Homo sapiens: one gene and its partners. The protein of the gene in region 3 interacts with the protein of the main gene of each other region in a pairwise test. Each region holds a gene or a part of one and is shown on either strand. Other genes may lie near its edges. The genes, in order: CRTAC1, SSX2IP, MORN4, SEPTIN6, BEND3, KRT25 and HMMR.

Region 1 (4,315 bases), 270 kb from region 3:
CCCTTTTCCTGGTAGTGATTGGACCCCGTAGCCCCTTTTCCTGGTAGTGATTGGACCCCGTAGCCCCTTTTCCTGGTAGTGATTGGACCCCGTAGCCCCTTTTCCTGGTAGTGATTGGACCCTGTAGCCCCTTTTTGTGGTAGTGTGGCTTTGTATCTTGTGGCGCTTGGGTTCTGGGCACACTTTGGGCCACATTTCCCTTCCCTTTCCCTGCAATAGCAGAGGCCGGCTCCTTGGCCAGGCTTTGCCCTGCATTCCCACAGCCTCTTGCCCAGTCCTCGTCCTTCCTTCCTTTCTGTTTCTTCATCAGGGGACCTGTGTTGACCTTGGCCTGACCCCCTGGCCCTGGGAACCCTCCCCTTCTGATTCTTAAACCTTCTCCCTGACCGTTCCTCCCACCAGCTGTCAAGGATGAAGAGCCACGAGCCAGGATGGAGCATCTACCGGAAGAGGCGGTTGGCTGAGGAGCTGCGGTAGGCAATGTTGTTGAAGAAGATCTCCAGCTCCTGGTCATTGTCAAAGTCGGCGGTGATGACCGTGCGGACAGGGGAGGGCATGGAGAACTTGGGTGAGGCGATGTCCTGGAGGAAACAAGGCTGGGGGTCAGTGGCAGGAGAGTGGGCTGGGGCGGGAGGCCAGCTCTCCTCTATGGAGTGTGGGGGCAATTAAAAATAAGAGACAGTCCAACCCAAAAGCTCCTCTCCTGCCTCCCGCAAAGGACCTGGGGGCTGCCTTTAGGACCACACAGACCTCAGGCTGCTTGTACGAGAAGAAGGAGGGAAGAATAACAGTCGTGCTAGACACCAGTGAAGTGCTTAGCCGATCCCTAGTCTGGATCACACCTGTCCATCCCTTCTGTCCATCCCTTGAGGCAGTACAGACATTAGCCTTCCCATTTGACGGGTGAGGTAACTGAGTCCTGGAGAAGGAGGGGAACTGCGATGTCACAGCTACTGAGTGGGGAGGCCAGGGCTTCTGATTCCGGACTCTGTGCCCTTTCTCCTAGGCACCCTTCCTCCTCTGTGCTGAGTCAGAAGCTGGGTGGGCACCGGAAATCTCTGTGCATCTAAATCCAGGCTCCACCACTGACTAGCTGTGTGATCTTAGGCAAGTTACTAACCCCCTTGGATCTCACCTTCCCCATCAGTAATGTGGGAATAGTAATAGCTGCCTGGGTTGTGAGGATTGCATGTAAAATGCCTGGCACAGAGTGGGCATGACATAGCTCGCTGGCAGCCTGTCCTGCCTTACCCACCACCTGCCTCAGGGAAGGTGAAAGAGGTTACCTGTAGCTGTGGATTTGGCTGCCTCTACTACCTTACGTTGTTTCTTGGGAGTCTTTTTATTTTTATTTTTTGAGACATTTGCTTTGAGGGGGTTGCGGTATCAGCTACACCTGTCCAGGACTAATGGGGAGACCCCAGGCCCAGGATAGCCCAGCTGGGACTCCAAAGTACTGGGAGGGCCTTGGGGGACCAGGCAAAGGGTCCCAGGTGTGTTTCTGCCTCTGAAATAGAAGGAGAGCTGGGAAGGGCAATCTTCTATTTCTGAGCGTAATATCCTCATCATAGGTGGGTTTTTCCCCTAAAGACCTTGGGGACATGTCTAAGTCCCAGGGCCCACGTGGAGAGGGCTGAGAAAGGTACAGGTGGTGTCTCTGGGAGCATCCTCTACCCGACTTGGGCCTGCTCTCGGCCTCCTGCTGCAGACCCTCTTTGGCAGCCACAGGGATGAGCAGGCTGGGTCAGCGGTCGAGCTGCCTGCTCTGGGGAGGCCAGGGAAAGAGGCTGTCTCCATCAGAGGAGTAATGAGGTTGAATAAGCCTGGCCAGCTGGTCTGGGTGGGTTGAGCTGGGCCTTAAGAGCCAGGGAGCAAAAAGACCTCAGGATCTCTAGCCGTTATGATTCTATTGATCCTATAAAAATGGAAACCTCCCATAGCCCCCTTGGGGTTGCCCTATTCGATGCCTGAGCTTCCGAGATAATGTATGTTAAGCTTAGCACAGTTCGTGACACATGGAAGGCACTTGATAAATAGGGCATTTATGTATTATTAGTATTATTATTGCTCCTGAGAGCTCTGGGGAGGGGCCTTCGGAAGAATTAACAGGGTTCCTCACCCTCAGTGCGTTGGCGTTTGGGACTGGATAATCCTTTGTTGTGGGGCTGCTTTGTGCACTGTAGGGTGTTCAGCCCTATCCCTGGGCTCTGCATACTAGATGCCAGGAGCCCTCCCTTCCCCAGCTGTGACAAACCCAAATGTCCCCAGACATTGTTGAATGTCCCAGAGGGAGGGCAGCAAGATCATCCCTGTTGAGAAGCTGGGTGAGAACAAGAGTAGAATAAAGGTGGAAATCGTCCAAGATCCCAGGACGAGCTGTCCTGGGCTCAGGGCATGCCTCTTCCCAGCCCAGGGAGCCTGAGTCTCAAGCCTTAGCAGGGAGGGAGTGGCTGGGCCTGGGCGTCCCAAGGTGGCTGCTTACAGGGAAGGGACTTGGTAGGGGTGGCCTCTTCTTGGTTACACAGACATGAGGTCCCTGGGGACTTCCCTGGGATCCTCAAGCCTCAGGAAAACCCTGGAACTTTCCCATTTCCTCAGGGGTTTTTGGCAGACCTAGGTATCTGCAGAACAGTCCTGGATCCCTGAGATCAGCTTCAACCAGCCCATGCCCTCTGTTGCCCTCCCTGAGAAAGTTCCAAACCCATGCCCCTCATGCTGTTGGCACCTCCATCACTGTCACTAACAGCCCTTTTGAAGAATTCTTGGCATCGGTCTATCAACAGCTCAGGGAGGGGGCACAGAGAGGGCTCTGAGGCCACCTTGCCTGCCATCTGCTGTTTGTCTTTAGGGGCAGCTGTTGGGAACTCCGTGGCTTCAATCTTCCATTCTCTCCACCACTTTGCCCTTGGTTTGAACGTCAGTCTGAAAAGGTCTAAAAAGCTGAGGCCTGGCTTTTGTGGAGTGTGCAGGGGATGCCATCCTGTATCCCCTGCACACTCCACAAACACTCTCTGCTCTAGCTGCTGGATCCTTTCCAGGAGCCACCAGAAAAAATGGCCTGGATCCAGAGAGTGCAGTCCACCTCCCAGGACTCCGGCCCACCTCGGAGGCTGCTCTCCCACCTCTGCTGACCTGGTTCTTCCTACTCTTGGATCCAGAGCTCCTACAGCAGCCCAGCTGTAGTCCCTCGTCCCCTGGTGTAACCTTCCTTGTCACCCCACCCCCACTCTGGGCCCTGAGAGCCTTGAGCCCTGCTCAGCCTGGTGGGAGGAGCGAGGCAGCTCCATGGCATGCCGGGGCACCCCTGCAGTGGTGCTGTAGGGAGGAGTGAGGGAGAGGCCCTTTCTTTTTATTTTATTTTATTTATTTATTTTTTTATTTGAGATGGAGTCTCGCTCTGTCACTCAGGCTGGAGTGCAGTAGCACGATCTCAGCTCACTGTAACCTCTGCCTCCTGGGCTCAAGATTCCTGTGCCTCAGCTACCGGAGTAGCTGGGATTATAGGCACGCACCACCACACCTGGCCAATTTTTGGTATTTTTAGTAGAGACAGGGTTTTGCCATGTTGGACAGGCTGGTCTTGAACTCCTGGGGTGAGGCCCCTTCTTACCCGGAAGCGGACCTTCCCATGGGTGCTCATTTGCAGATAGAGGCGGTGGGGGCCATTCCAGTTGCCATAGACGATGTCCACTTTGCCATCACGGTTGAAGTCAGCCAGGGCGACACCTCGCCCATGCTGGTGGGGGTCGTCCACACCTGGGGAGGAGAGGCAGGAACTCTCAGGGCGGCATCCCCTGCACACTCCACAAACACTCACCCTGCTCTAGCTCTGTGACAAGCAACTAGGGAGGGTGACTCTCATCTTGTTCCCGGGAGGAGATACGGGAGACATAGCTGCAGTCTCAGAAGCTCTCTATAGGGGCAGGAAGTGGGACAGTCATGTGCTTGAAAAGAAGACCCAAGACTTGTGTTCAAGCTGTGTTTGCCCAGCATGCATATTATTTTTACCCTGTTTGGGGGGTGGCATGGGTTGGGGGAGGGAGACTGGGGGAAATTCTGGAGGACCAAAGGCTCTTCCCGGCCACCCCTAACACTGCCACTGGAAGACATTAAGCTGATCATGCCACTCTTTTGCTTAAGCTGATCATGCCCTCCAATCCTTTTAGGGAAAGTTCTAATTCCTGCCTGGGGAGCACAGGGTTCTGCCTGACCATGGTCCTGTCCGCCTTATCTGGTCTTGATCTGGTCCCACTCTCCCCATCTTTCCAGCTCCTGGGCCTTTGCTCAAGCAGGTCTCTACCTGGGATGCTCTCCC
Region 2 (4,315 bases), on a different chromosome or scaffold from region 3:
AGGGGAAATGATCCCATTCTATATGCTCAGCCTCCCTCTCATTTCAAATTATTTGTGAGATCACCAGTAAATATTTTAGAAAATAAGTAAATAGCAAGAAAAAAAGGAGACCTTAGAAGCATTCTACTGAGGCCCACCCACCCCCAGTATTTTCAAAAGCACTACAATTGTTTAAAATACCTCCAATCCCAGGCGAATAGCGGCTTCTGTAAAGCTTCGTCTCTCCCTCTCAAAATTCTTTTTCTGCTCTTTAAAAAGGGACCATTCTTCTTTGAGACGTTCCTTTTCTTCCAACAAATAACAGTCTCGTAATAGTGAAGTGGTATCATCATCATATGCAGTAGCGAGCTGCTGCTATTAAAATTTAAAACATAGTAAGTTCCTGAGGGACCTTGCGACACTCCAACGAGTTGAAATGAAAGCAAGGGAAGGCCAGTCAAACTTCAGGGCAGGAATAGAAATTATTAAGAATCAAAAAGTCAAATGAGAATTCTCATTTCCCGAAACCTACTACCCCAACTAGCAAAGTATGGACTATTTAAGGAGTGGTACACAATGTATCTGTTAGCAGGGAACACAGACTAGAAATCTGTCAAATACCAGGGCCTTATGAAATAAAGGAATACAAATCTGGTAAGGTTCAGCACAATTCTGGCTTTTCATGGAGAACAGCTTTAAAAGGTAATTCATATTCACCTGTAAAAGCTGTTGCTGAGTTTTAATCATTTCTTTACACTGCTGAATTTCTAACTCGAGTTTTTCAGTTTCTTGTTCATGGTCTTGTCGTGAGATTACATCTTCATCATTAAAACCTTCCAGGTGTACCTTTGAAACTAAGACAAAATCAGTAAGTTGACATAGGTCTTATAGCCACCACTTAGTTTACAGTGTTTTGCACATATCTTTAAAACAAGGGCTCTCAGAACTTTTATCTTTCTAGAATTTTATAGGTTTTCTAAAAAGTAGTTACGTCCTTTGACTTTTTAAAATTTCATAAGCTATAACAAAATTAAATTTATATTATTTTAACATTATAAAAAATGTTTAAGCAAAGCAACTACAGGAGTTCATGACGACAATTACACATTTGTGCAATTTTAAGACTAAATGATATGCTTACAAACAGAGCTCTATTGCCAACAATTTGTAATCCATATTTATTCATGATTATGTCCTAATTAAAAACAGACAAAATGGCCATATTCAGAGAAGAGAAAAATAAAATCATGTTTTTGTTGACACTGCTTCAAAGATCAATGAAGTGTCACAAATCTTGCTCTCAAATATTAAATTCAACAAATACGAAGTCCAAACATACTTGCTATTTGATAATAAACAGCATTGACTCAAATGAACAAAATCTCATGTAGATTCATTTTGGTGCTGTAATAATAATTTTGCTGATTGCTCTTTACTAATACTTAACACAATGGCACTGAGTTCATATTTTGACAATTTAAATTTTTCTTTAAATAGGCTTCATTTACTGAGCAGAAATCTTCATTTTCCTAGTTTAAAAGCATTCAAACTTTACCAAGCAGAAAATATTAAGAATATATTCATCAATGTAGAGCTATGTATAAGGATAATAGTTAAGTGAAAAAAGCACACTAAAGAAAAATATAGGTAATATTCAATTTTTAAAATTTAAAAAAAAGTAAGTATCTTTCAAATCCATAGAGGAAAGTATAGAAAAATATGCACCAAACTGTTAAGTGTTATATGTATGGAATAGAGACCAGGATATTCTACTTTATATACTTCCAAATTAATATTTTGCATTAAACATCTATTATTTTAAAAATAATTTTAAGTGAATTACTAGGAACATAGTAATCTGCAAGCATCTAGAAATAAGCAAAATGTTCCTATCTATACTACGATAAATATTTCTTGATTTTTGAGAGTCAGTAAAAGAGACTCAGTTTTCTCTTTTTGGGGGGGAACAGGTGGTGTTTGGTTACATGAATAAGATCTTTAGTGGTGATTTCTGAGATTTTGGTGCACCCATCACCCAAGCAGTGTACACTACACCCAATGTGTAGTCTTTTATCCCAACTCAGTTATCTTTATTTGATTGTATACTGCATCCAGAGCAGATGGATCCATGATGTCCTCTTTTCAAACATTCACTCTGAGACCAAAGTGTATTTTTCTCAGTGAGGTTCAAACCTCACATCTAAATGTATGTAAAATGTCGGCTGTGCACAGTGGCTCACACGTGTAATCCAGACACTCTGGGGAGGCCAAGGCAGGTGAATCACTTGAGGCCAGGAGTTCAAGATAAGCCTGGCCAACACAGCAAAACCCCATCTCTACTAAAAACACACCAAAAAATTAGCTGGCTATGATGTGCGCCTATAGTCCTAGCTGCTCAGCAGGCTGAGGCAGGAGAAATAACTTGAACCTGGGAGGCGGAGGTTACAGTGAGCCGAGATGGCACCACTACACTCTAGCCTGGGTGACCGAGCAAGGTTCTGTCTCAAAAAGTAAAATAAAATAAAATAAAATGAAAAAATAAATGTATGCAAAATCTTGCTTTCAAACCACCAAACTGAAGTATAGTACTTTAGCTCTGAGCCTATAATGCGGCTTTCTAAGTGACTAAAAATCAACACCTTACCAAATGTCACAACTCACTTTACATGCATAGAAGCAGTGGTTACCTTGGTTATCAAGCTTTTCTACATGACTTTTCAAAATTCTCCACTGTTTTCTGATGCTGTTTGTAAGCTGCTCTCTCACAGTTTCACAGGAAAGGTCCCACATACTCTCTCTGCTTAGTTCCCCGGCATCTTCTTCAACATCGGAAATAACCTACAAGCGGAGAGAGATGAAGAGGAAAGGCTAGTACCTTACAATGGCTTTAGATGCTCAGGCAAGTAGTCTTCAGTTTGATTACCAGAGGAAGCCACATCAAAATCATTTCTGTGCTGTGTCTTATGCATATATGGCCCAGTATTTAAATGTCTTGAGAAAAAAAATGAGACTCCTAAATTCAGCTCTCTCTAAACCTGAATTTGAATCCAAATACAGTTAATGACAAGAGTCATGAAGCTGTCTGAGAAGGAGATATCACTACCTGTCTAATGTGTTGGATGTTTTCACGTTATTTAACCCTCAGCTCATTACAATGTGGGAAAACCGAGGTTTAGAGAAGCAGCATTACAACTAAGAGGCAGAACTGATATTTGACATTAGATCAACTTGTTTCTAATCCTAGGCTGCTTAAAGAAATGCACTTGTGAAATAATCTCTGAAGTATTTAATAAAAGCAACTGTTAATTCTATTTTCCTCATATACTTTTTTATATAACGGGAGATACTTTTCTTTGTATTCTGCCAAACATGAAATCATAAAGAAGTAGCAAACTTTACTGATATATGATCACACAGAATCAAAGCAGGATAAAGAACATGGGGAAACAATACTAAAAGGGATATATGTCATAATAACCCACATCTACATAAAGTAGTTCTAATTTGTCATTAATATTCAGGAAGGCAGAGAGATATACTTCACTAATTTGAACAATAAAAATCTTGCTGGGGAAAAAAGAAAGATAAAAGATGAAAAGAAAGAAGGGCTGATTCGACTGCTCGCACATGGAGATCAGCAGGATGAGGGAGCAACTGAGTCTGAAGAACTCTATCAGTAGTTGAGGTCAGCAATGGGCTAGCAGAGGTCAGGGTCTCTGAGGCGGAGCAGACAGGGGAATGGCCCAGGATCCGGCTCATGGTGATTCTAGCCCCTGCCAATACTCAAAAGCTACTTGCCAGTAACTCTTCCAAGGAAGCACAGCTTCTCTTCTGAACATTTTAAAGCCTATTAGAATACTACCAATCTGTTAGAAAAATTATTGGCCGGGCGCGGTGGCTCATGCCTGTATGTAATCCCAGCACTTTGGGAGGCAGAGGTGGGTGGATCATGAGGTCAAGAGATCGAAACCATCCTGTCCAACATGGTGAAACCCTGTCTCTACTAAAAATACAAAAATTAGTTGGGCGTGGTGGTGCATGCCTGTACTTCCAGCTACTCAGGAGGCTGAGGCAGGAGAATCACTTGAACCCGGGAGGCAGAGGTTGCAGTGAGCTGAGATGTCACCACAGCACTCTAGCCTGGCGACAGAGTGAGACTCCATCTCAAAAAAAAAAAAAAGAAAGAAAAATGAATAATTATTGCACATTTCTCAGATTGAACAGAACTCTCTAACCACAAAATGAAAATAAAAAATTCGGCTGGGCACAGTGGCTCATGTCTGTAATCCCAACACTTTGTGAGGCCAAGGTGGGATGACTGTTTAAGCCCAGGAGT
Region 3 (4,315 bases):
GTCTTCATCGGCACTGACTATACTTTGTTAAACTAGGTTTGTCTCAATGACCATGGTTACTGGTGAAATTCCTTTTTAGGTCAGTAGCTGTAAAGCTATTCATTAGCATGGTTAATTATAAAAGTCATAAAATCCAGACACTGTCCCAAATAGTGACAATATCAACTATTTGGGCACATGTGACAGTTTCTAGCCAAATGTATTCAACCATGGCCTGAGACTCATGGATTCTACACACATTCCCTTTCATTAGCACTTCTGACTGTGGTCTTGGCAATGGACATCATTTTGGCAAGCATTTGCTGAAGGGAATTTGCTATATGTGCCTAAGTCAAAATGGAATGGAAGTTTGTAGTATGTACTGTTGAAAACCAATGGGAGAGGATGGTGGGAGGGTTAGGTTGAAACATGGTATTCCAGTTATTATTGCTGTATAACAAAGTACCCCAGAATTTAGCAGCTTAAAACACCCATACTGTGGCCAGGCGCGGTGGCTCATGCCTGTAATCCCAGCACTTTGGGAGGTTGAGGAGGGCGGATCATGAGATCAGGAGATCAAGACCATCCTGGCTAACACAGTGAAACCTCATCTCTACTAAAAATACAAAAAATTAGCCGGGGCCGGGCACAGTGGCTCATGCCTGTAATCCCAGCACTTCGGGAGGCTGAGGCAGGCGGATCACAAGGTCAGGAGATCGAGACCATCCTGGCTAACATGGTGAAACCCCGTCTCCACTAAAAATACAAAAAAAAATTAGCTGGGCATGGTGGCGGGCGCCTGTAGTCCCAGCTACTGGGGAGGCTGAGGCAGGAGAATGGCGAGAACCTGGGAGGCAGAGCTTGCAGTAAGCTGAGATCGTGCCACTGAACTCCAGCCTGGGAGACAGCAAGACTCCGTCTCAAAAAAAAAAAAAAAAAAATTAGCTGGGCGTGGTGGCGAGCACCTGTAGTCCCAGCTACTCAGGAAGCTAAGGCAGGAGAATTGCTTGAACCCGGGAGGCGGAGCTTGCAGTGAGCCGAGATCACACCACTGTACTCCACCCAGCGTGACAAAGCGAGACTCTGTCTCAAAAAACAAAACAAACAAACAAAAAAAAAACACCCATATGATGCTCATGGATTCTGTGGGTGAGGGAATTTGGACCTGGCACCATGGGGAGGCCTCTCTCTGCTCCCTGATATGGGATGGAATGCAGGCTCAATGGCTGAGGGCTGGAATCATCTGAAGGCTCCTTCACTGATGCCTGGTACGTGGGATAGGATGATTCAAAGGTAAGGGCAGCCAACTGGAACACCAATATATGGCTTTTCTGTGTGGCTTGGCTTTCAGTGTTAGCCTCTGTGTAGTCAGGCTTTTTATGTGGTGGCTCGGGTCTCCAAGTGTGAGTGTATCAGTGACAAGATGGAAGTTGCATCACCTTTTATGATCTAACCTCAGAACACACCACCATTTTCTTTTGAGACAGAGTTTCACTCTTGTTGCCCAGGCTGGAGTGCAATGGCGCGATCTTGGCTCACTTCAACCTCCGCCTCCTGGGTTAAGCAATTCTCCTGCCTCAGCCTCCCAAGTAGCTGGGATTACAGGCATGGGCCACCACACCCAGCTAATTTTGTATTTTTAGTAGAGATGGGGTTTCTCCATGTTGGTCAGGCTGGTCTTGAACTTCCGACCTCAGGTGATCCGTCCGCCTCGGCCTCCCAAAATGCTAGGATTACAGGCATGAGCCACCACGCCCGGCCCACACCATCATTTTCATTGTGTTCTTTTGGTCCAAGCAGTCACAAGCCTACTCAGATTCAAGGGAGGGGAGGTAGATTTCACCTTTTAATGGATCAATGGCCAGATCAAATTGTAGACAAACATGTAAGACAGAAGATACTGTTGCAAACATCTTGGAAATACAGTCCGCCACATTTGGTAATAAGAAGGTAACCTTTTCAGTTTCATTGGCTTCCTTAAAATATTTAGGGTATAATCCCCAAGAGCTAACAGCATACTAAAAAAGTGGTTAGGGGCTGGGCGTGGTGGCTCATGCCTATAATCCCAGCACTTTGGGAGTCCAAGGCAGGCAGATCACATGAGGCCAGAAGTTTGAGACCAGCCTGGCCAACATAGTGAAACCCCATCTCTACTAAAAATATGAAAATTAGCTGGCCGTGCTGGCACGCCTGTAATCCCAGCTACTCAGGAGGCTGAGGCACGAGAATCTCTTGAGCCTGGGAGGCGGAGGTTGCAGTGAGCCAAGATCATGCCATTAGACTTCAGCCTGTGTGACACAGTGAGACTGTGTCTCAAAAAAAAAAAAAGAAAGAAAAAAAGTGGTTAGGTGTACCACTTGAAAACTAGTACTTTGTCCGTAAATAACCCTCAAACTGGAGAAATGTTCCCTTCTTTCAGCAATCTTATACTGTTCCTTCTGGAACAAGGTAGAATGCCACTCTTTGGAAGTTTCACGTAGCCTTGAGAAAAAGTAAATAAATACAAGGCAGTACTTTCCCTGAGTCCCTGTGTAGTCAATATGACTCCTCAAATCCCACTGCAATAACTCCTTCCAAATTTTGAGTGAAAACAAGTTGGTTAACTGCTGCCAGACATCTAAAGGAAATGCTCTTATAATCTTTTTGTATAAATAGTGATTTTGTGTTTAGGTTTTGGAATGGTTGTTTAATTATAAGATTTAGTGGAAGATACAGCCCTTCAGATTCTAACTGATGTGTTTTGAAGGAATGAAACTTCAACCATAAGCTGACTTTTAGTGCTGTAACTTAGTTCTGGGAAGAGCTGAGGATTGCCTGATCAAAATGCCCGTCTGTACTGGAAAGCGTTTTCTTCTGCTATTCTGATGGAAAACTACTTCTCATGCTCTCATTAATGTTATATTTGCAATGGAGTCATGTTGGCCTCTACCCCAGCACACTCTGATGCTGGGCTGGTGATAAGAGGCTTGTGAGCCTGAAATTGGATGCTGACCTTGTGGGACATTGATAGGACAGAGATGACATGGCAAGTACCAGCATCACGTCTCAGAAAATAGCTCCCAGAGGTTTGGAGGGAGTTTACTACAAGAAGATAATGGTCCTTGCCTCGGATATCTTCTGTGTGAGAGATACTGGAAATGGAATGCTTGACTGATAACTGAAGAAGGGAGAAAGTCCTATGGGAGTGGCCCCCAAATATCTCTAGAAGAGTCTCCACAAGGTTGCCCTTCATTTAGGCGAGAAATGAATCTTTTCTCTTATTTGGGTGAGAGCACAGGGATTCTTATAACTCGTCTGTCCTCATGGCTGGGACAGAGCCAGGGCGTAGAAGATGTCATTGAACCCTGCTCTGGTCAGGCCTAGCTGTTTTCACATTAGACCATTTCTGGGCTTTTGGTGTCTGTATCAAAAATCATTATGTTCTGGCTGGGCGCGGTAGCTCACGCCTGTAATCTAGCACTTTGGGAGGCCGAGGTGGGCAGATCACATGAGGCCAGGAGTTCAAGACCAGCCTGGCCAACATGGTGAAACCCTGTCTCTGCTAAAAATACAAAAAGTAGCTAGGCGTGGTGGCACACACCTGTAATGCCAGCTACTCAGGAGGCTGAAGCACGAGAATTGCTTGAACCCAGGAGACGAAGGTTGCAGTGAGCTGAGATCGAGCCACTGCACTTCCACCTGGGTGACAGAGTGAGAGTGTCTCAAAAAACAAAAAACAAAAAAAAAAAGGTGTTCAGGTCCCTCTGCTGAAGCTACTCAGCAAAGTCACCAGCACCAGTCTCCATTAAACAAACAAACAAACAAAAATCAGGCCGGGCACAGTGACTCATGCCTGTAATCCCAGCACTTTGGGAGGCCAAGGCGGGAGGATCACCTGAGGTCAGGAGTTCAAGACCAGCCTGGCCAACATGGTAAAACCCTGTCTCTACTGAAAATACAAAATTAGCTGGGCGTGGTGGCAGGGGCCTGTAATCCCAGCTACTTGGGAGGCTGGGGCAAGAGAATCGCTTGAACCTGGGAGGCAGAGGTTACAGTGAGCTGAGACTGCACCATTGCACTCCAGCCTGGGCCACAGGAATGAAACTCTGTCTAAAAAAAAAAAAAAAAAAAAATCTGGGCACAGTGGCTCATGCCTGTAATCCCAGCACTTTGGAAGGCTGAGATGGGTGGCTCACCTGAGGTCAGGAGTTCGAGACCAGCCTGACCAACATGGTGAAGCCCTGTCTCTACTAAAAATACAAAAATTAGCCAGCCATGGTGACGGTCACCTGAAATCCCAGCTATTCGAGAGGCTGAGGCAGGAGAATTACTTGAACTCGGGAGGTGGAGGTTGCAG
Region 4 (4,315 bases), on a different chromosome or scaffold from region 3:
AACAGAGTTCTGCCCCGTTACCCCAGGGCCTTCATTCCGGGTCAGAGAGGGCCATGGCAGGGGAAACCTGAGCCCTGAGGCCTCTCGCTGAGAAGGCCTGCAGATCTTTTCCCTGGTCACCTTTAAGTGAGTGGAAGGGCCGGCTGAGAGCGCGCTGCATAATTCAGCAGATGGCTGCCTCTAATGAGAAGACACTGAAGAAGAGGATAACATTATTTCTCACCCTCCTGAGCATGTGGCCTCCTTCCTCTGTGCAGGCGGCAGAGAAACCCACGGTTTCAAATCCCAGCAGCAGAAGCCTCCTCCTGCCAAACTGAGGAGGAAGGGTCTGTGTTTCTAATTTATTCTGCGCCCCCCACTCCAGTTGTTACTTAAAATAATCCATCATTACATGGCTGGTGGCTCCAAGATTTTTATTTAAAGCAATATGGAGAAGAAAAAATAAAAAAGAAAACCCACACAACCCGTGACTGTGCTATATTGGATTTAAGCTGAGAATCTTTTTAATATCAGAGAGTCTCCGAATCACCCTAGTATACTCTTCCCTGGGCCCTATGGGAGTGCTGAGGGAGTGTAGTGAAAAGAGGGGGAAGAGAGGTCATGGCAGGATTTTGATGTCTTAGAAACATCATGAAAAGACAAGTGTTTTTAAACAAGGAATCTGTGTCATCTGGTGGGTGTTTAATCGTATCACCCACTGACCAGCAATAGCACTTCGGACTAAGTAACTTGGTCTCCCTACACCCATTAAATAAAGGGAACAGTAATACTTGTCCAGGAAGCCATTGGGGAAAATGAAATCATACAGATGGAAGCATTTCGAGATCGTTGAAAGAAACATGTTATATATATCCATGGCTTTCCTTCTTTCCTTCTTTTTCCTTCTTTCCTTCTTTCTTTCTTTCATCTGTCTTTTTTTTTTTTTCTTTTTTGAGACGGAGTCTCACTCTGTCGCCCAGGATGGAGTGCAGTGGCACAATCTCGGCTCACTGCAAGCTCCGCCTCCCGGGTTCACGCCATTCTCCTGTTTCAGCCTCCAGAGTAGCTGGGACTACAGGCACCCGCCACCACGCCCGGCTAATTTTTTAATTTTTAGTAGAGATGGGGTTTCACCGTGTTAGCCAGAATGGTCTGGATCTCCTAACCTCATGATCTGCCCGCCTCGGCCTCCCAAAGTGCTGGGATTACAGACGTGAGCCACCGCACCTGGCCTCATCTGTCTTGAATGTAGTTTTAATGTACATGCAACTAAAAGCCCTTCTCAATTGTTCATGCTAATATTAAACCATGGCTCTGATCATCCAAAAACCCAGGCAAGTCCAGAAATCAGCCCTACTTAGTTTGGGAATACCTTTTTCCAGAGGACTTATCTTCCTAATTGGCTTTGCTCAGGCTAATGCAATAGGTTTGCTCCCTTATAGCACACAAAGGCAGTGGCCATGCTTGGTAACAAAGCCAGCAATTAATAGAAAATTTACAGCAGAGACTCCACAAAGTAAATGCTATGCACATGACTGCAGATCAAAATCTCATTAGATGATACAGACAAATCACTCTGCTATAATGTAGTTTTGTATTAAGAACACCGCTAACACTCACATTTCCAGGATTTAGGATGTAAAAAGGAAACAGGGCTTATTCCTGCCTTTCATCTGGAAGCTGTGAGAGGGCAGAGTTCCTGCGTGCCTTGGCCACCACTATATCCTCAGCACCTGGCACGGGGCCTGGCCGATCAGTGCCCAGTGAATATGTGCTGAAGGAATGAATGAAAATAAAAGTGGGTGAATTGGCAAATGAAATGTTCCCAACCCAGTAGCAGATGTGAGATCTCACCCACCTTCACACCTACCCATTTCCTATTTGAAGCCCTCAGGAAGCCCTTCCTGTCACCCTCTGCCTCCATTCATTGCTGAGTTAGGTTCCCTTAGTAATGAAATCTCATGGCAGGCAGTCACTCTCCTGTGTAGCACTTATCACAAAGATAATTAGATAGTGATTTGTGTCTGCCTCCACCAGTTCCTTGAAAGAAGGGACCATGTGCATTTGGGGGACATTGTCATTCTGCCCGCTTTTTATTTTGAAAAATCCCAGGCCGGGCGCTGTGGCTCACACCTGTAATCCCAGGACTTTGAGAGGCCAAGGTGGGCAGATCACGAGGTCAGGAGTTCGAGACCAGCCTGGCCAACATGGTGAAACCCTGTTTCTACTAAAAATACAAAAATTAGCTGGGCACGGTGGTGCACACCTGTAATCCCAGCTACTCGGGAGGCTGAGGCAGGATAATTTCTTGAACCCAGGAGGCGGAGGTTGCAGTGAGCTGAGATCGCGCCACTGCATTCCAGCCTGGGCGACAGAACAAGACTCCATCTCGGGGAAAAAAAAAAAAAAAAGGAAAAGAAGAAAAGAAACATCCCAAACACACAGAGAAGTTAGAAAATAATGTAATGACTGTCCAAAAACCCCTCAAATTTAGAATCAACATTTTTAAATATTTAGGGCCATGTAAACTTTCTTCCGTGTTGTATCACCAATAGAGCTAGGTAATAGGGTTTTGTTTTCTATGTTTGAGGTACGATACTACCTTTAGTGGGTGGTGGTAGGAACGCCTGAAGCAGAGACCTCAAAGGGAATCAAAGGGTAACTGCCACGTGATGATAGCAAAACCAGAGTGCAGCAGCAATCTTTTCCCCACCTGAAGACAGTTGCTCTGAGACAGTTGACCCAGACCAACCCCAGCTAACTTTGTAGGGCAAAGTTAGCCCCTGAAAGTTCACTTGGGAGAATGACCACTACCTAGATTGCCACTAGAGAAAGCTTCATTGTTCACATTGTGGGACTAGTTCAAGCCAGAATCATCCAGATGCTCTTGGTATGGGCCGGCATTTACGGTCTGGATCCCAGAATGCAACATTGAAAGGAACAGCTCATTAAAAGAGCCAGCACATGCAGCTTTTGGGGCTTGCCCTGTGCCTTGGTTACCTTGGACAAGTCATGGAACCTCTCGAAATATATATTAATAGCAGCCCAAGCCACCTCATAGTCAGGGGGTGAGGTGGGGCATCACAAGGATCTTCTATAGTTCTTTAATTATTTCACAGTGTCCACAATTTGTCATTCCAACTAGACTATAAGCTTAAAAGCCACGAACTTTTTTTTGTTTTGTTTTTTGAGACGGATTCCCACTCTGTCGCCCAGGCTGGAGTGTAGTGGCACGATCTCGGCTCACTGCAAGTGCCGCCTCCCAGGTTCACACCCTCAGCCTCCACAGTAGCTGGGACTACAGGTGCCCGCCACCACGCCTGGCTAATTTTTTGTATTTTTAGTAGAGATGAGATTTAACCATGTTAGCCAGGCTGGTCTCGATCTCCTGACTTTGTGATCCACCCACCTCGGCCTCTTTTTTTTCTTTTTTGAGATGGAGTCTCGCTCTGTTGCCCAGGCTGGAGTGCAGTGGTGCAATCTTGGCTCACTGCAACCTCTGCCTCCAGGGTTCAAGCGATTCTTCTGCCTCAGCCTCCTGAGTAGCTGTGATTACAGGCACGCACCACCACGCCTGGCTAATTTTTGTATTTTTAGTAGATACGGGGTTTCACCATGTTGGCCAGGCTGGTCTCGAACTCCTGACCTCATGATCTGCCCACCTCAGCCTCCCAAAGTGCTGGGATTACAGGCATGAGCCACCAAGCCCAGTCCGATCACGAACGTTTTTTAAAGCCTGCTACCTTTTTTTGTCCAGTTGACAAGGGCTAACCATAGTGCTGGCCACATATCAGTCAATCAAGTAAATATGGACACAGTGGAGAAATGGTGTTGTCACACCAAACCGTTTGTGGTGTTCATTCAAATGGGACGGACTTGTATTATGTGCACCAGAATTGAACTTCCAAGTTGGCTGCGTGCAATGTAAGCCCTACCCAACAACTTGAAGGCTTGTTTTAGTCACTAAGGATGTTTACCCACAGTGACTCTCAACTGATTCTAGAAAGAACACACCCCCCACATACATACACATACACACACACACACACACACACACACACACACACACACACTAGGGCACTTACTCGCATGGTACCACGTCTCAGAGCTCATTAAAAAGAATTCCTGGCCGGGAGCAGTGGCTCATGCCTGTAATCCCAACACTTTGGGAGGCTGAGGCGGGTGGATCACAAGGTCAGGAGTTCGAGACCAGCCTGGCCAACATGGTGAAAACCCCCCTCTACTAAAAATATCAAAACTAGCCAGGTGTGGTGGCGGGTGCCTGTAATCCCAGCTACTCGGGAGGCTGAGGCAGGAGAATCGCTTGAACCTGGGA
Region 5 (4,315 bases), on a different chromosome or scaffold from region 3:
CCACATTCCCGGCAGGCTCCATGTGGCAGCCTGGACTCCAGCCCTGCACTGCTCCCTATGTGATGGGCCTGCCAGAGACACATGGTTGGGCGAATATAATGGCAGATAAATAGACTGCCCTTCTCACCACCCATGGCCCTGTCTGCTGTGTTCTCTCATCGACGCCTGTTTTGTTTTGTTCTAGTATTTGCCCATCCTTTTAGTGCTTTCCACTTACCAGAATCTTTGACTCTTTGCAATTTTTCTTTCACCATGACCCTTTTCCTCCCCAAATAAACCAACCGCTGTCTCCTCCCTCTCTGCCTTTTCTCTGCCAAATGTAATTTGTTTTGTAAAGTATGTCCGCCTCTGACAGCCATCGTTTTGCCCCATCTGTTCTGCATCTCAGAACTCCCCTTGATTGGCAGGAATGGGTTATGTGACCATGGCAGTTTCCAAGGGCAGGGGCATTCAGGTGACCTGCAGTGTGTTTCCTTGAGAGGCCTCCTACCAGGCTGGGAATCCGGTCTTGAATTTCTGCCTGGCATTGTCCAGCCCTTCTAGCCACTCAGAGACACCCAGCTCAGATGATGGCGATCCAAAGTGAGGTGTAGTTCCTTGAAATACAGTGGAAGGAGTTGCTAAAATTTGACTCTGGTAAAATAGTTCTCGGACCCTTGAAGTTGACTTATTATTTGTTTTCTGTCAATATCACCCTGTGTGTAATGTTTTTTCAGGTAGGAGATGGCTTGGTGAGTAGGAATTATTTTCAGTTTCAAATCTCATTTTGGTTTTCATTCCTCTGAAAATTAGCAATACAGGGATGAAAAGAATTGTGCCTGTCTTGCACTATTGTGCACTGTTCTTGAACTAAAAATAGTGCTTCACATCATAAGCACTGTATGTGTTGCCATTATTAGTAACCTTTGCAGTGATGATTGTGCTCATGGATCACCCAGACACACTCTCCCTCTTGCTGCCATCCCCACCCCATTCACCTGTCTAAAACAGGTACTGTATGTCAAACACACACCATTCTGTGGCTACTCCTTGAATGGTTCACTGAACATTTTAGATGGCTTCATGCTTACAGAGTTTCTTTCTTTTTTTTTGAGACAGAGTCTCACTCTGTCACCCAGGCTGGGGTATAGTGGTGTGATCTTGGCTCACTGCAACCTCTGCCTCCCGGGTTCAAGCAGTTCTCCTGCCTCAGTCTCCCAAGTAGCTGGGACTATAGGCGTGTGCCACCATGCCCAGCTAATTTTTGTATTTTTAGTACAGATGGGGTTTCACCATGTTGGCCAGGCTGGTGTTGAACTTCTGACCCCAGGTGATTCGCCCACCCCAGCCTCCCAAAGTGCTGGGATTACAGGCACGAGCCACCATTCCCGGCCAGAAATTTCTTAAGAGATACTTCTTGGTCCTGCTCTCCACTCATCCTCAACCAAAATGAGAACTCTGTGTTTGTAGTCAGCTTAATCAGTTGTGGGGATCACAACTCCCAAGTGTCAACATTAAAGATTGCAATGTATATTCTCCAAATGTTACTACCTTTGTATCTTGTACTATTTATGTACATGCTGTCATGGTATTCGGAGATATCAGAGACTTAGTGGTAATTTTGTTTGTTTTGTTTTAGTGGTGCTTTGCCTCATGGTGTCAGTTCCATTCCAGCTGAGGCAGGCAGGTTTTGCTTCAGACCCTGCAGCCTGGAACAGAGCACTGCCCACCTTTCTAATGAAGCTTAGGCTGGGCACAATGGCTCACACCTCTAATCCCAGCACTTTGGGAGGCTGAGGTGGGCGGATCATGAGGTCAGGAGATCGAGACCATCCTGGCTAACACGATGAAACCCTGTCTCTACTAAAAATACAAAAAATTAGCCGGGAGTGGTGGCTTATGCCTGTAGTCCCAGCTACTCGGGAGGCAGAGGCAGGAGAATCACTTGGAGGCAGAGGCAGGAGAATCACTTGAACCCAGGAGGCGGAGGTTGCAGTGAGCCAAGATTGCGCCACTGCACTCCAGCCTGGTGACAAAGCAAGATTCCGTTTCATAAACAAATAAATGAAATAAAGTATTGTATTTAGCCCAGTAAGTCCAAAATATTATCATTTCAACATGTAATCAATATAAAGCAATTATTAGGACTGGGCACTGTGGCTCAGATGTGTAATCCCAGCACTTTGGGAGGCCAAGGTGGAAGGATCGCTTGAGGAGTTCAAGAGCAGCCTGGTCAACATAGTGAAACCGCATCTCTACAAAAAAATTTTTTAATTAGCTGTGGGTGGCGGCATGTGGTACCTGTAGTCCTAGCCATTCTAGAGGCTGAGGCAGGAGGATTGCTAGAGCCCAGGAATCAGAGGCTGCAATGAGCCATGATAGTGCTACTGTACTCCAGCCAGGGTGAAAAGAGTGAGACCTTTCCTCTAAAAAAAAAAAAATTACTAGTGAGATATTTTGCATTTCTGTTACTAAGTCTGAGATTTGGTGTGTATTTTACACTTATAGCACATCTCCATTGGACTAGCCACATTTTGAGTCCTTGGTAGCCAGGTGTGGCTAGTAGCCACCTTCAGGTCATGGGCAGCACAGTTCTCTTGACAACCGTAAGTCCTAAGATTTCAGGATCCATGGCCCCCATCCTTCAGCCTATTTGTTTTGTGGCTGGAATTTATAAGCATGGACTTAAAAGAGATAATTAAAATTGGGGTCTTTTTTAAGAGTTGATTTGTTCTTGTAATGTTCCCATGGCTCAGTAAGTGGCTATCAGTGGATGCTGTAAGACACATTCTGCTCACATAAAGTCTTGGAGAAGAGCTCCCAGCAGGGATGCACAAGGCCTGGCTGCTCCTGAGTGTCTGCAGACAAGATTAGGAGGACACATAGCTTCCACAGTGCTGTGCTGCTCTGTTACCTAGAGCTGGGGTTGGGAGGGTAAGAGGATTTTCTGTGGGTAGAGAAAATTAAGAAATAAATCAAGCAATAAGTCAACACATTGTCTTTGTCTTTTTATTTAGCGGAATAGAAGATGAACTCAACTGAATTCACCGAAGATGTAGAAGAAGGTAAAAAAAAAATGCCCTTTTTGAAAAATGTTTTTAACTGAATACTTTTGATCAGGTCATACATTCACATGGTCCAAAAATATACAAAGTTATATAGTGAAAAGTCCCCTCCACCCACACACTTGTTCCCCGGTTCCCATCCCCCTCCACCCACACACTTGTTATAAGCACCTTGTGTCACTTTTTAAAAATTACTTTTTTAAAGCACAAAAAGATAATATTTTATGTCTCTCCTTCCACTGTCTTCCCCCCCAAAAAAAGATGTTTAAACCAATTTGAACTAAATGCTCTTGGAACATGGCTTTATTGTACAGCACTAGTGCGGTGAGATAAAGATTGCATCGTTGGAAAGCTCAGGTTTGTTACAACTAGACATCATTATCTCAGCACTGGTGTCAAAGGGCGGCCCACAGACACCCTGCTGCTCAGAGAACCCTGCTGATCTCTGAGCAGCCCTGGTTTTTCCCACTGAGCCCTATTTCTTCTCTGACACAGTTCTAAAAAGTATCACTGTGAAAGTGGAGACAGAGGCTGAAGATGCTGCTCTGGACTGCTCCGTGAATTCCAGGACTTCTGAGAAGCACTCTGTGGACAGCGTCCTCACTGCCCTGCAGGACTCCAGCAAACGAAAGCAGCTGGTCAGCGATGGCCTGCTAGACTCTGTCCCCGGCGTGAAGAGGAGGCGGCTGATCCCCGAGGTGAGGGCCTAGCTGCTGTCACTCTTTGCTTGGGCTCTAACCCTCTCTGATTCCATGCTGAATCTCCCTCTTGTTTTGGGCATCCTGGCAACTGCTGAACCCTTGGGCATGGGAAGGTTTCATTTAAGCTATCCCATCTCTGGCTTCAGTTTCTCGAAAGTGTCTGTCTTTAACTGGAATTCTTGTTTGTGTTGGGATTCCTGGTGGGTAAAGGGAGCCTTCACATTGCAGCTGCTTTTGCGTTATTTTGCTGTGCTTTGTGGGGGAAAGCAGGAGCTTGCTGATAGTGAGGACGGTTAACGTAAGCCTACCACACTTGACATAGTAGCTGATTCTTGCAAAAGTGGGGCATTAGCTGGAGGTCAGGTCTTTTCCTAAATTAAATCTATCATTCACTTATTTAAATAGAGACTGGATCTCACTATGTTGCCCAGGCTGGTCTTGAACTCCTGGCCTCAAGTGATCCTCCTGACTTGGCCTCCCAAAGTGCTGGGATTACAGGCGTGAGCCATAGTGCACAGCCAACTCTTTGTTTAATTGGTTTGTTTTAACTCTCCCCTGTTGGATGTTAGG
Region 6 (3,221 bases), on a different chromosome or scaffold from region 3:
GGATAATTACAACACACTTAAAAGACTCTTTTTCTGCTTTATATTTTCACTTAGAGGCAGAAACCATTTTTTTTGAATAGATTATAATATGGATAATCCATCCATACAGGATAGAGGGTCAACTAAATATCTAGAGGTAATATCTGATCTGAGGAAATTATGTTTTTAATTAATCTAATTTATTTCCCTTTAGTAGAGAGAAATCTATTGGTCAAGAGAGTTATAAACATCAGCTACAACTTTGTAGTAGAAGTGGATGGCTCTATTCCTGTAACTTGGATTCTAAACTAAAACTTTTGCTATAACCTCTATTACATTTGGAATATTGTTTAAAATATATATCCAAAAGGAAAATGAGGTTGAGAATTAATCATTATAAATATTGAGTATTAAAAATAAGTATTAGCATCTGTTGAATGCTTATCCCATAAGTGCACTTTGCATTAAGTTATTTCTTTAATCTTTACAATAACCATTTGAAAGAACTACTTTTATTATCCCCATTTACAGATGAAGAACCTGAAATGTATATACTTTAGTTATTACTAAAGGGAATAGGCTTCTTAGTATGTCAAAATATGGCAGATTGGGGATTTAAATAAAAGTACTTTTATTCTTTCTGAATTTGTTTCAGTTTGAATTATAGGGTAAGCCTTATGAAAACCTATGAGGAAATCTATTATTTTGAAAGAGTTTTTATATAATAAAAGCTGTTAGATGTTCACATATTTATATTGCACACATAAACATTCTAAAGACAGTATCACCAATGATAACTTGCTAAAGAAGAGGTTTATTGAATACAAAGAATTGACAACAGATTTCTGTAGGATAATCAAATGAGTCATATTTGTGTGTGGCATTCTTCTAGATGAATGGGGAGATGCTGTCATTGATTGCCCAGAAAGAAAGTAACAGAAAGACAACAGGTTAGACATTTTTCTTAGACATGCACATTTTTCTGGACAGATACATAATGCCTTTTCTTCGCAGGGGCTATGTGGCATACGTTCTCTGTTGCATCTCAAATTAATTGCTTTGAGATTTCTCTTCCAGGGAGTGGAGCCTGGTGGTAAGTATTTTGCTGCGTTGGTCTACCTCCTCAAGAACTTTCTTAACCACTATGGCTTTGGCTGGGTCTGAGCATTAAAAATTAAAAGGAGATTTTATGTAGTTAAAAAAAGAATAAAAATTATATCATTTAAAGGAATAATAGGATTTGCATACAGAATGAACTTTGCACTAAGCACAAATACTTAGACTCATTTTTGGTGAATAATTTTGATTATTTGGTTAGAAAAAACATGGTGACATGTTATTTTGTTTAAAATTAGCACAAATCACTAATATTAGACATCTAGCACATATGGATATCTACTACAAATCTTTATTGTATGTATTCTTACCAAGCCATGGTAATATAAGAACAATCAAGCTATGCATTAAAAATGAAGTAGTTGGGTATATATACCCAGAGGAATAGAAAACATTCTACCATAAAGACACATGCATGTGAATGTTCATTGCAGCATTATTCACAATAGCAAGAACAAGAAATCAACCTAAATGCCCATCAGTGACAGACTGGATAAAGCCATAAACACCATGGAATATTATGCAGCCATGAAAAAGAACAAGATCATGTCTTTTACAGGAACATGGATGGAGCTGGAGGCTATCATCCTTAGCAAGCTAACGCAGGAACAGAAAACCAAACACCACATGTTCTCACTTATAAGTGGGAGATAAATGATAAGGACTTATGAACACAAAGAAGGAAACAACAGATACTGGGTTCTACTTGAGGGGGAAGGGTGGGAGGAGGAAGAAGAGCAGAGAAGATAACTATTGGGTACCGGGCTTAATTCCTGGATGATCAAATAATATGCACAACAAACCTCCGTGACACGTGTTTACCTATGTAACAAACCTTCCAATGTACCCCCAAACCTAAATTAAAAGTTAAAAAATAAAAAATTAGCATTGCACAACAGATTTCATTTTAATTACCTTTGACTTGACTTCCCACATTTCCAGATCCATAATCTTTAGACTTGTAACCCCCAGACTTACAGGCTCTGTGAAAACATCGCAAAAGAGGGTGATTTAGAGAGAACCCCATCAATTCTAGGATCACCATATGGTTTTCTTTAGCTCTTTGGTAGTTTCAACTGTGTAACCCAGTATTTGATTTATAGTGTTTGCTGATTTCTGTAGAGGTATGAATACCTTCTCCATTGCTGATATCAAGTCACCAAGTGACATCACTAAGTGAGGGGTTAGGAAGAGAAGAGATAGGCAGAAGAGGCTGTCATGAGATGGTAACAGCAGTTCTAGCATGCCACTGGGTGTATTTATACAACTTAGGTTGAAATTCACCCTTTTAAGTTTTGCAGGTTTATGAATTGTGACAAATTTATATAGCTGTGTAAGGATTTACATTTGGAAGCATCACTCTAGTCAATGAGGGAGGGTTTGATGATAGGTGGGGAAGAGTGGTGTAGATCGCTTCAGCAGTTAGGCAATTACAAGATACTTTTCCTAAGTGGGGTTTTCTCTGAGACTGTAATGTTTTTGTTCTGCTTCAGCATTAAGAAGTGATTTTTTTTTCTGTATGATTCCTTTTATATTAACATCAAGAATGGATAAAATAATAACTGCCAAGGGAAGTGGGGCACAGAAGAACTTTCTGGGGTGATGAAAATGATCTTCATTGTGAATTCAGGAAGCTTCCTGCTCCTAACAACCCTGAGCTCTAGACATCCAGACTTGTGGCCATGGGACTTTATCAGTGCTATGAAGACAGGATTCTGTGAGTGCTGAGCTCCAGAAACCATTTCCAGAGTCAGAATCCTGGTCCACATATTGAAACTCCATTTAGCCTCCCGTTTGTTCTTTTCACTCTAGAAGTGATATTTTCAATGTTCATATCTTGAACTCGGTGCCTGCTGCATATTGGTTTAAGATATTAATTTGTATTTTGGCAGTTGAGTATGTATTATATTTAATATTTAGTATTCATGATAATAAATGCATGCAGCCAAATTATGTCCGCTTTCCAGTGGAAAGTGGGATCTAAGTTGCAAGCAGATTTCAGTATATTACGCCATCTATGCAGATTATTTTACCTACCCATCATCTCCTCCTATAAGGAGACAGTAGGTCTCAATTTCTTTTTCCAGGTGGAGCTTGATGTCCAGGAGCTGCTCATACTCCAGCTT
Region 7 (4,315 bases), on a different chromosome or scaffold from region 3:
ATATGAGCTTATGAGAGATCTTTTAAAGAATATACAGAACTAAAAATTGTAAATAAGCATTGTGTACTTATAGACTAAGTTGGACACTGAGATAAGAAAAATAGCTGATCAAATTCATTCTGTAACAAGTGCCGGATTTCAAAAATATACACACCACAGCAAGAGCAATCAAATATGACTAAAGAGTTTATAATAAAAATATTTTCTTCCCTGTCCCCTAGAGGAATTATTTTCAATTCTTAGTTTGTTTTTCTCTTAAGCTTGAAATTTCCAGGCTAGAAGGGATCTTAGAGACCATCTAATAAAACTCTTTTATATCTAATGAAGTAGAAGATCAAAGAAACTAAGATTGTTTTGCTCAGAATCAACCAGCTAGCTAACAGAATTAGTAATAAAAATCCTTATCTCTTGACCATTGGACCACAGTTTTTTGAGTTGGAATAAAAAATTATCTCAATTTTCTTTCCTCTCTTAAAATGACATTATCTTATTTTCCCAAGATTCCTGTTCCCTGAGATTGGCTGTAGTATAGAACAACACCCCTAATTACAATTTTGTATTGTTCCCCCAAAAGCAGGGATATGAAAAACCTTGCTGTTCATTTGCATCACTAATCATAAGAAAACAGAAAAGATTAATAACAAAAGTATCCACTGAGACAGATACACAGGTGTGAGATATATTACAATAATACAAACTCATATCTAGCCCACAGTCCTTTGACAACAAGTGTTTTAATGATCAGATCCCAAGGATTTAAATATTTGCAATTTGAACTCAAGAATCAAATCAGACTTTTTAATTTAAATAAATGTAGTAGTGTTTGTCACTAACCTGTGTTCCTGAACTATGAAATATGAATATGTAGGCTAAGGAATAGTTTCTCTTAATAAATAAAAAATTAGCAATTACTATGGACAAAACAAAACAAAATGAAATAAATAAGTGTATGGGAGAAGGAAACATAATGTGGCAGAAATTATAAGGAACTAGAGTTCGGGAAAAAAGTGAGATTTCAGTTTTTCTTTTGTTTTTGGGACACAGTCTCCCTCTGTCGCCCAGGCTGGAGTGCAGTGGTGCGATGTCAGCTCACCACAACCTCCGCCTCCTGGGTTCAAGCAATTCTCCTGCCTCAGCCTCCTGAATAGCTGGGATTACAGGCGTGCGCCACGATGCCAGGCTAATTTACTATGTATTTTTAGTAGAGATGGGGTTTCACCATGTTGGCCAGGCTGGTCTCGAACTCCTGACCTTGTGATCTCGCTGCCTTGGCTTCCCAAAGTGGTGGGATTACAGGTGTGAGCCACCGCACCCAGCCAAGATTTCAGTCTTTCTACTGTAAATAAGAGATTTCTTACTTCTGAATGTTTCCCAGTTATAATTATTTTTTCTCATTTGCTTTTTATCAGTTATTGATTGAGGTGGCATCTTGTGCTACGTTGCCCAGGCTAGAGTGCCATGGCTATTAACAGGTATAATCGTTGAGCATTACAGCCTCAAACTCCTGGGCTCTAAAGATCCTCCCATCTCAGCCTCCTGAGTAGCTGGGACTTTAGGCATGTGCCATTGTGCCAGCCTGCTTTGCATTTTGATTGCTATTTCTGAAGTGTTTGTGCTCCCGGAAAAATGTAATTAAAGGTATAACTTACACTATGTAAGTGCATAGACAAAAATGGGAATGCTATTTATTAATGGGAGGGATTCTTTATTTTTTTCCCCCAAGTTCATTATTGTGTTTTGTTTGTTTTTGAGACAGAGTCTCACTCTGTTGCTCAGGCTAGAGTGCAGTGACGTGATCACGGCTAACTGCAGCCTTAATCTCGTGGGCTTAAGTGATTCTCCTCCCACAACTTTCTAAGTAGCTGGGACTACAGGCACACACCACCGTGCCCAGCTAGTTTTTTTTTTAATTTTTAGTAGAGACGAGGTCTCACTATATTGCACAGGCTGGTCTCAAACTCCTGAGCTCAAGCAGTCCTCTCACCTTGGCATCCCAAAGTATGGGAATTGCAGGCATCAGCCACCACATCCAGCCCTGAGTTGATTATTGTTCTAATGCTGATGTTCAATAAATTTCAGAAATTAGCAGAGTAGTAAAGAAGTGTAAAACTTTTGTCATTTGTTTATTTAAACTCTCTTTGGCCTTAAAAAAAGGGGGCAAAACCTTTAACTTTTAACTTAAAAGAGGGGGCTGTCTTACTTGTTTGCATGTACATTTTGTGTTCACATTCTGTGTCTACTACTTAATTGTAAAATAATTAATAATTACTACTTAATTATAAAATAATTCCAACCTAACACGCTCACATGATTGATAAGAGAATACTAAAAAAAGTACTCAAAATAAATACATCTGAAGTCATACATAAACATGAGATCCTATTAATACAAACCCTTTCAGCTTTTCTTCTAGGAGTTTTAATTCTTCAGCTCTAGATTTTGCTTCCTCTTCCAATTGCTTGACCAGCCTTTCAGCTTGTTCCTCCTTTTGCTGTAATTTATCAAGCTCATCCAGTGTTTGCTTTAATTCTTCCTCAAACAGATTCTTCTCTTTAACCATTTCCTCTTGAAAAGAACAGAGCTTCTGATGAAGACTCGAAGATAATTCCTATATCCAAACAGAAAACCACCAAAATAATTTGGAATGGCATTGTGAGGTTGTACTAGGAGACAAAAAAAAGTACAGATAAAGAAGGATGAAACCTAAATTCAACAGATTCAAGGAAACTTAAAACAATATAGAAATAGCATATTTGTTTTCATAGATTATTTCCTATACCTTGTTAACATTGTGGCAAATATCATCTTAGGCTTTTTTCTATGCAACGCACATGCAGAAACTTCTTAATCTAAAATTATATTTTATATATATATATCTGTTTTACAACTGGCTTTGATATTAACATTATTTTTCACATATTATGTAAAAAGTGTGTGGTGATTTCCATATTACATAAAATTATTTTTTAAGCTATACAATATACAAATACATCACCATTGTGAAATAATTCTAACATTACAAATGATGTTAATATTATCTTTGACGACTTCCCCCCCTAATTTTAGTTTTCCCATTGCAGAGATAGCTACTAGTTTGGAATATATATGCCTTCTGGTATTTTTCTTTACACTTATATATACATATACATTTGGGGAGGGATATAAATGATATATACTCTGTTGCTGAAATCTTTCCAGGTCAGTGTATATAGATCTACTCAATTCCTTTAGCTGTTGTAGGTTGTCCAACACTATAATATTTCACATCAGTGCATGTAAGTACCTGTTGGCTTAACTCTCACCAGTATTTTGTGTTATCAAATGTTTTAATTTGTGCCAATTTTGTAAGTGAAAAAAATATTATTTCTACTTCCTTGGTTACTACTAAGGTGGAGTATCTTTCTATATTTACAGGCCAGAACTTCTCCTTCTCTGTTTCCATCCTATGCCCATAATTTTTCAGTGGACTTTCTTTCTTCTCACTGATATGTAAAATGTTCTATAAATAATCTGGATTTTAAAAATTGCTTTGTTTCTTCTGTAATTAGACAGTCTTTTACAAGGTAAGTGTAAATGTTTATATAGCCTAAATAACACAAGAATGAGCCAGAAAATTTTTTAAAAATTCCCTATTTTGCTGTATCTGTTGTCATTTTCCCACATTATTCATAACCCTAGGGTGAACATGTAGTGAAAATACGTAGCTAAATCCTCAGCATATCCATGATTATGTCCTCAGGATAAGACTCTAAAGATAGAATTGGTAGATCAAAGGATATACACAATTTAAAGGTGTTCAGAGACATAGGGAAATGTATGACACAAAATGAACAGTTTAAAAAAATATGGTGGTAAATTACTTTCTCTTGTTGCAGAAGTGAATCAATTTGTAATTCTTTTTGTTGAAGCTTTTCACGTTCCTGTTGTTCAAGAATAAACTTCTGTTTTAAGTTTTGCATCTCTGCATTTAGATTTTCGTTGTGTTCTCTATTCCTGTTGACATGGTCTTCTAGAAAACGCAAAACATCAAGAATACTGGAATTAGATAAGAACATTAAGACTGAGAAACCTGGACTCCCATAATATTCCATTACACTGCTTTTAGCATGGTATTTCCAAAGAAGAAAACAAAACTGTGAACTTTGTATCATTACTCCATGTAATATATACTATGTGCTAAATAATAAAACCCACAAATCTTGTTCTGTGTTATCTACTGATTGTTACACAGCCACCTAGTGGAAAAGTCAAGAATTATATGACTGTATATATTTCAATCAAGACAGGTAATATGCTGTATTGAAATAAACAGAAA

The links.
Region 1: the proteins of MORN4 (region 3) and CRTAC1 interact in binary tests that used the Homo sapiens proteins (3 or more experiments, as listed by UniProt).
Region 2: the proteins of MORN4 (region 3) and SSX2IP interact in binary tests that used the Homo sapiens proteins (3 or more experiments, as listed by UniProt).
Region 4: the proteins of MORN4 (region 3) and SEPTIN6 interact in binary tests that used the Homo sapiens proteins (3 or more experiments, as listed by UniProt).
Region 5: the proteins of MORN4 (region 3) and BEND3 interact in binary tests that used the Homo sapiens proteins (3 or more experiments, as listed by UniProt).
Region 6: the proteins of MORN4 (region 3) and KRT25 interact in binary tests that used the Homo sapiens proteins (3 or more experiments, as listed by UniProt).
Region 7: the proteins of MORN4 (region 3) and HMMR interact in binary tests that used the Homo sapiens proteins (3 or more experiments, as listed by UniProt).

The regions. Positions count from the first base shown.
Region 1 is NC_000010.11:97,901,059-97,905,373, forward strand, and holds part of CRTAC1 (cartilage acidic protein 1 isoform A precursor), read right to left. Parts: intron 3,757-4,315; coding exon 3,611-3,756; intron 582-3,610; coding exon 445-581; intron 1-444.
Region 2 is NC_000001.11:84,655,652-84,659,966, forward strand, and holds part of SSX2IP (afadin- and alpha-actinin-binding protein), read right to left. Parts: intron 2,818-4,315; coding exon 2,667-2,817; intron 834-2,666; coding exon 697-833; intron 355-696; coding exon 181-354; intron 1-180. UniProt on the Homo sapiens protein: Belongs to an adhesion system, which plays a role in the organization of homotypic, interneuronal and heterotypic cell-cell adherens junctions (AJs).
Region 3 is NC_000010.11:97,626,531-97,630,845, reverse strand, and holds part of MORN4 (MORN repeat-containing protein 4), read left to right. Parts: intron 1-4,315. UniProt on the Homo sapiens protein: Plays a role in promoting axonal degeneration following neuronal injury by toxic insult or trauma.
Region 4 is NC_000023.11:119,686,337-119,690,651, forward strand, and holds part of SEPTIN6 (septin-6), read right to left. Parts: intron 1-4,315. UniProt on the Homo sapiens protein: Filament-forming cytoskeletal GTPase. Required for normal organization of the actin cytoskeleton. Involved in cytokinesis. May play a role in HCV RNA replication.
Region 5 is NC_000006.12:107,097,978-107,102,292, reverse strand, and holds part of BEND3 (BEN domain-containing protein 3), read left to right. Parts: intron 1-2,996; 5' UTR 2,997-3,007; coding exon 3,008-3,044; intron 3,045-3,539; coding exon 3,540-3,742; intron 3,743-4,315. UniProt on the Homo sapiens protein: Transcriptional repressor which associates with the NoRC (nucleolar remodeling complex) complex and plays a key role in repressing rDNA transcription.
Region 6 is NC_000017.11:40,747,248-40,750,468, forward strand, and holds the end of KRT25 (keratin, type I cytoskeletal 25), read right to left. Parts: coding exon 3,133-3,221; intron 2,079-3,132; coding exon 2,011-2,078; intron 1,140-2,010; coding exon 1,030-1,139; 3' UTR 774-1,029; downstream 1-773. UniProt on the Homo sapiens protein: Essential for the proper assembly of type I and type II keratin protein complexes and formation of keratin intermediate filaments in the inner root sheath (irs). Plays a role in the cytoskeleton organization.
Region 7 is NC_000005.10:163,473,751-163,478,065, reverse strand, and holds part of HMMR (hyaluronan mediated motility receptor), read right to left. Parts: intron 4,010-4,315; coding exon 3,861-4,009; intron 2,609-3,860; coding exon 2,394-2,608; intron 1-2,393. UniProt on the Homo sapiens protein: Receptor for hyaluronic acid (HA). Involved in cell motility. When hyaluronan binds to HMMR, the phosphorylation of a number of proteins, including PTK2/FAK1 occurs.